2 linked regions of the Homo sapiens genome follow. The protein of the gene in region 1 interacts with the protein of each later gene in a pairwise test. Each region holds a gene or a part of one and is shown in the gene's direction. Other genes may lie near its edges.

What was found. Proteins that work in one complex are often made in the same cells at the same time.
Region 2: the proteins of PRDM16 (region 1) and GLMN interact in a two-hybrid assay, tested with the Homo sapiens proteins (one large-scale study listed by BioGRID).

Annotation. Positions count from the first base shown.
Region 1 is NC_000001.11:3,429,203-3,432,702, forward strand, and holds part of PRDM16 (histone-lysine N-methyltransferase PRDM16), read left to right. Parts: intron 1-1,669; coding exon 1,670-1,906; intron 1,907-2,763; coding exon 2,764-2,938; intron 2,939-3,500. UniProt on the Homo sapiens protein: Binds DNA and functions as a transcriptional regulator. Displays histone methyltransferase activity and monomethylates 'Lys-9' of histone H3 (H3K9me1) in vitro.
Region 2 is NC_000001.11:92,246,988-92,250,487, reverse strand, and holds part of GLMN (glomulin), read left to right. Parts: intron 1-2,498; coding exon 2,499-2,610; intron 2,611-3,343; coding exon 3,344-3,426; intron 3,427-3,500.

The DNA of each region.
Region 1 (3,500 bases):
GTCCACGGCTGTTGCTTCAGGCCCCCATTCTGTGGGGCTTGGTTTGGGCAGCTCTGGGAAACTGACTGTCCTCCCTGTTGGAGCCAAACCAGCCACTGGGCCCTATTCTGTGTCCGTGCCGGATGCTCCGCTCCCCAACACTAAAAAGCAAATACTCTGTGCATGGGGGGTGTGCAGCAGACATAAAGAGGGCAAAGTCCCTGCCCCCAGCTGGTGGGAAGCCCATGCAAACCCACGTGGGGCCACCAGATGAGATCTCACAGCACATGCCCATGTGATGAGCCTGGGCTCTCACCCTGCGCCATCTCATCCCGTCCTCAGAGTGGACAGGGAGGGGTATGTCCTCGTGTCATCGAGAGGGCACAGGCCCCAAAGACAGAACCCCACCCGAGGGCACCTCACCAACAACCAGGGTGAGAACCAGGACCCGGATCCCAGCAGCTCCGTGGCTGAGGAGATGGGTGTGTGTACAGGACGCTCTTGGCCCCCAACACAGGCGACCAGGACCGAGGAACTCTCCTCAAGCCCTGAAACCTGGTGAGGTTCTGTCCGTCCTGGAAGGCAGAAAGACAAGAGATAGACACGTGGCCCATCTGTGGAGAGCCAGGAAATTGTGGCCTCCCCAAGCCCAGTTCCCGTGCACACAGGCGAGTCCGAGACACGGAGGTCGGTCGCCGTGAGACGCTGTCACTTTCTTGCTTGGATGCCAAGAGCAGGACCCCTGCATCTCACCCACACCGTGGATACCTCCCAGGGCAGCGGGAGGCAGTGCCCCCGGGCGGAGTGAGGACAAGGAAGAGTGGCCCTGGGGCTCTGGGCATGGGCAGTCCAGAAACTGCGTGCCCTGCCCTTTGCTTGGGCCCCTCTACCAGTATGTCCAGCATGTGCCCGGGGGCCCTCAGCTCCCCTGGGGCCCAGCCCACCCAAGACACAGCTCTTGGTCGTGAACATGAAGATGAGCCAAACTCTAGTGGCTCTTCCTGAAAGAAATGAGAATGCCCAGCCACACCCATGCACGCTTTGTTCTTTTTTATTTAATACTGAGGAACCGGAGTGGAGGGGTCCTGCCGGGCTGCAGTGACCCTGAGGGAAGTCAGGAGAGCCCTGGGCTGCAGAAGAGTCCCCCCACAGGCTCCGAAGCAAGCTTGTCCTGGTGCATTCAGACTGCTCACAGCAGGCTTTGGGCCCTCACTCTCCAGATCCCAGAGAGCCCTCCAGGGCTCCCGGCTCTCGGGCCAGTGCCCACGTCCTCGAGTTGTCAGCCTGAATTCCTTCCCCCTGAAGTCTGCCCTGAGGGTGCCCCTCGTGCACTGCCCAACCCCCGTGCCAGTGCAGGTCCAGCTTCCCCACAGGACTGCCCACTGCTTCCACCCCAACACCGCCCCGGCCCTGGTGTCCTCCCGGCCATAGCAGCTTGCTGCTGGGCCTTGCCCTGCCCCCACCGCCCCGAGCGCTTGCCCTCCTCTCCCGGGATCGCCCCCAGGCCTCCGTGCCTCTCACTCTGCAGAGTCAGTGGCTGGGCCCAGGGACCCGCGGGAGCTCCCTCAGGAAGGGGGCTGAGTGTTGTCGGGGGAGGCAGTGGGGGCAGAGCGGAGTCACCAGCCTTTGGGGGTCCATGGGAAGGACAGAGACACCCAAACTCAGTCAATCTCCTCCTGCATCATTTCAGGGCGGACATGCAGATCGTGGACGGCAGTGCCCAGTGTCCAGGCCTAGCCAGTGAGAAGCAGGAGGACGTGGAGGAGGAGGACGACGATGACCTGGAGGAGGACGATGAGGACAGCCTGGCCGGGAAGTCGCAGGATGACACCGTGTCCCCCGCACCCGAGCCCCAGGCCGCCTACGAGGATGAGGAGGATGAGGAGCCAGCCGCCTCCCTGGCCGTGGGCTTTGACCACACCCGAAGGTGGGGGCAGCCGTGTGCTCCAGGATGGGGCAGGGAGGGAACGTGGGCGTCCATCACGAGGGGGACCTCCCTCTTCAGCCACTCGTGAGCCCATCCCTGGCTCAGCCCCTACTCCAGCACAGCCACCTCAGGGCCTCCACACACAGGCCAGGGCAAGGCTGGGCCAGGGGCAACGGGGTCAGGGGCCCTTAACCCCCCCACCCACCCCCAGGGGCCCTGGAGGCTGGAAGCAGAGTGTGGAGGGGAAGGCATTTCCCTGCACTGAGCAGACATGGAGGCCCCCGGCCCTGCAGCAGAGCTGCCTGTCAGCCTGGGACAGCGCGTGCAGCCACTAGAGGGCCGTGGGCACACGGGGGCCAAGCACCCACCATTCTGTGCCGGCCAGGGCCACTTCCCCATGTCCTCAGTGTTCGCCACCAATATCGGGCCTGGGCGACACTGCCAGCATTCCCAGATGCCCTTGGGGAGGCCCTTCGGAGGTGGCACTTCCTCTCCAGCCTGGATGCTGCCCCTGAGTCCTGGGAGAGGGAGCCCCGGGCCTCTCTGAGCTGCCTGGGGTCTTAGAGAATTGAAGCCTTCTTCTCCACCCTCCACTGGCAAGACCTGAGCCCCCTGCCTGCTGCCTGATGCGTGTGCACGCACTCACCCCCTCCCTGACCTCTGTCCGTCACTCTCCTGCATCCGTGTGCCTTCCCGTCCAGGCGTCTGTGTGTCCGTGTGTCTGTCTCCCTGTGCATGTGGCTGGCAGAGATGCAGCGGCGTGCATGCAGGCCCGGAGCTGGGCTTGCAGCATCAGAGAGGCGGCCAAGGCCAGGCTGCTGACAGCAGGCCTTCCCTCTCCCCGGTCATTGGTGCAGGTGTGCTGAGGACCACGAAGGCGGTCTGTTAGCTTTGGAGCCGATGCCGACTTTTGGGAAGGGGCTGGACCTCCGCAGAGCAGCTGAGGAAGCATTTGAAGTTAAAGATGTGCTTAATTCCACCTTAGATTCTGAGGCTTTAAAACATACACTGTGCAGGCAGGCTAAGAACCAGGTAGGTACCCGCCAGAGCCCCTCCCCCACCCCACCTGGCCTCCTCAGCCAGAGGACAGCCAGCACTCCTCTCCCGCCGTGGCCCTCCTAGGCCTGAGGAAGCTCTGGTCACGCAAACGCCCCCACGCTGCATCCTCCAGAGAGGCCCCAGCGACCACCGCCCTCCCGCAAGCTGGGGCGCAGCAGGGAGGGGCTGAGAGCCGATGACCCTGGCAGGACCCTCACGAGGGAGCTCACTCATGGACACGGGCAGCTCACCTTCCTGTGGTCCTCAGTGGGAAAGGTCTGTGAGCAGGTTTCTGGCCCGCCCAGCCGCCTTCGTCTCCCTCCCTCTCTGATCTGGGCCCCAGTGGCCTGCAGCCCGGGCTTTTCCCGGGGGAAGAGCTGTCCAGCCGGGCAGTCTCTGCTTCCCAGCTGGAGCAATGAGGTCAGCGAGGGTGCCAGGGTTTTGGCCCCAGGCGCTTCTCGGCTTCTCTCCTCAGGGTAGGTGGCCCCAGGGCCCTGCTCCCGCATTTCTCTCCAGTCTGTAGGGACTCAGGGTCTCATTCAGCACTCTACAGCCC
Region 2 (3,500 bases), about 89 Mb from region 1:
GCTGCATTATTTTGAAATACTAAAAACTTAGGATAAATTCCATATAATGGAATGCTTATGCACCAATTAAAATTAGAGCTACAACACAAATAACTCTCAAAAACATAAGATTGACAAAGAAAAAGGAAGCTGAAGCAGGTTATATACAGTATACCATTTATGTGCTTTTAAACATGAAAAATTATATTGTTTAAGTGATACATTAGGAATGCAAAACATTCAAGTTTTAGATAATGGCTACCTCTTGAATAAAGGGGATTTCAGCCATATCTAGTATTTATTTTTTAAAAGTAAATATGATAAAATGTTTCCTTTTGTCAAAGGTTTCCTTTTGTCAAAGCTAGGTGTTTTCCCTATACTCTTTATGTTCAAATGTGCTTTAGTGGGTAACAGAGAGTCATCAGTAACCTAGTCTTGAAAGCCATCAGTTGCAGTGGGTTCTGCCTATAAACCCAGAGGTGAATGCAAAGTAAAAAGAAAAAAAAAAAGTTGGGGGGCAGGGAATAAATGGTGAAGAAAAGGCTGGACGTAAAAAGGAATAAAAGCCTGTTATTTGCAGCAACGTGGATGGACCTACATGTCATTACATTGAAATATGCCAGGCCCAGAAAGACAGTATCACATATTCTCACATGTGTGAGCTAACAAACTTGATCTCGTGGATACAGAATATAGAATGATTGATTGATACCAGAGTGTGAGCATGGGAGGAGGAAATGTAGAGCAACTGGTGAATGGGTACAAAAAGAGTTAGATAAAAGACAAGCTGTATTGCTTGATAGCACATTACAGTGACTATAATTAGCAACAATATATTGTATATTTCAATGTAGCTAGGAGAGAGGACAGGAAATGTTACCAACCCATAGAAATGATGAATACTCAAGAGGATGGATACCCCAAATACTCTGACATTATTATACATTTTATACGTGTAACAAATACATGTACCCATAAATATGTAAAATATCATGTATCAGTAAAAGAAAAAGGCTGGATAGAGAGAGGTAAAAATAGGAGAAATGAGAGCAGTCAGTGCACATAAGAGTAATATGCTTGTTATACTGTGTGGCTACACTGGTTAAGGAAATTCCTGCTGCATATAACCCAAATTTGCCATTAGAGGTTAAGAAAACTTTCCACTTAACAATTTAAAAATTATACAACTAAAACATCCATTATTTAAAAATCAACATAAAGAAGCAAAAAAAAAAAAAAAAGAATAGTAATCAAAATTACACCGTTGTTGATATACTGTATTCCCTTCTAGGTTTTGGGTTAATACGTCTGTACATTTTTTCTTTTTTAAAAAGAAAATGAGATCATACTAAAAGAATCACACTGTTTTATAACCTTTTTTCCCATTCACCAATATGTACTGAAAAACAGTATTTTAATGGCTGTATAGTTTTTCCATTATGTTAATATGTCATAATTTACTATGAATCTCCTGTTGAGTTATTTTAATTCTAATGTTTCACTAAACATTTTTAAAAAACATCTGCAGTAGAATCATAACATACATCTTTATTTCCCCAAGATAAGTTGATAGATGCTAAGTGAAAAGGTATGCATATTTTTGAGGGTTTTAGATCCTCTCTAGTATTCTACTTTTCCTATTAGTATAGGATAAATAAGACAAGATGACTGAAATGAAAAGGATAGGTGTGAGACATTAATATTATCAATTATTCAGCATAGACATGTGTAGATTTTATTTGGAATGCTGCAAGTAACATGTACTACTTGGGTCAAAATAAGCTCATTACAAAATAGGTTATCAAGTAGTTCATTATTCTAGTTAAGAATAAATTGGGTCCCTACGTTTCCCTTTTTGACCTAAGACATTTTCCTTTGTAAAGAGTACTTGGAAACTGGAAGTACCAATGGATTTTCTTTTCTCTATTTTTTAAAATAAAGACTTCATGAGTCCTCTCCATTAGTACTGTAAGAGAAAATGCTCTTGGAATAAACTCTAAGATACATGACAAAATAAGCTGCCCTCAACAGATAAAATCTTCACCTACTTTGGTCACCAGGGAGGTTCAAATTAGCCGGGTATTAGAAAAGTTTCCATCAGTAGGAAAGGGAAAGCATCCTCTAGAACTAGATCCGTGGTGTGGATATCAATTGAAAGGCCATACTTGGGATGAAGGCATAAATAAGGTAGAGTCATTGTGGAGATGGCTCATAGAGGAAGAGACGTCTGTGAATTTATCCTCAAATAATTTTCTCATAAATAAAACTTAACAAGTTAATAGATCTCAAAACCTGGAGCTATCCAAATGGTGCAGTGATAAGCGTAGTGCCCCAAGTACATTTTTCTTTTAATTGGTATTCACATAACTAGCTATAGTAATAATTATTAAATAGTGAAGTCCATTGTGAAAAGCAAGGGCCATGTTTCATTTATTTTTGTTTTTTGAGCTTTTATCGCGTTTAATAGTAGGCAATCAATCATTGTTGAACTAAATAACTCATTCTTTCATTCTTAACAGACTGGATTATGGACAGAACTTGGAAATATTGAGAATAATTTCTTAAAGCCACTTCATATAGGACTTAATATGTCAAAAGCACATTATGAAGCAGAAATTAAAAATAGCCAAGGTTGGTAATGTGCAATTTTGTTTTCAATTAGGTCTAAAAAGTAGTCTAATTTTGGAACTGTCATATTCAAATTTAAGAACTTTTTAAAAATCTTGTACTTTAGAGACCATAACAGCTAAGCCATTTTATTTATAGTTAAAATTCTTAGCAGATCTATAAGCTAATTTACCTAAAATCGGGTTAATGAAGACTTAAACCAAATATTACATTGTAAAGCCTCAAGGTCTGATTAAGAATCTGTATTACAGCTATTTCCGTTTGGGTACCATTCCTTTGGTATTGCTGGGTCCACTCTCCATCTCACTCTCAAGTAAATCCATACAAATTATGAAAAGAATCTTAGATCCAGAATTTTTTTAAGTCAATAATTCTATAATAATCGTGTGATCTCTTCCGTATATCTGTGGTGGTGCTTTTATAGGCATTACCGGAAATTTTGTTTTTAGTATAATGGCTATAATTCTGATTATATACTGAAGAAAACAGTTTCATGAATCCTATACATGCCAAAATAATGCTATTTATCTAAAGAAGCATTAATTTACATGTTGCAGAATTTTGATATTTCATTCTGTTTGCTTATAGCTTAAGTATACCCTGAGCTGTTAAACAATGGACTTAATAATTTATACAAATAACTGACATGTTTTAAGTTAGTGAATGAAAGTAGCTTATACCTTTGTTATTGAAATCTGAGAGTTAAGTGTCACACATGATTTTTCTTCTCTTACAGAGGCCCAGAAATCTAAAGATCTTTGTTCTATAACTGTAAGTGGAGAAGAGATCCCTAATATGCCTCCTGAAATGCAGCTTAAGGTGATCTGAAATTTTCTTTTCTTTCCTTTTTCTTCTTTAGAAACGGGGTCTTGCTATCTTGCCCAAGCTGGAGT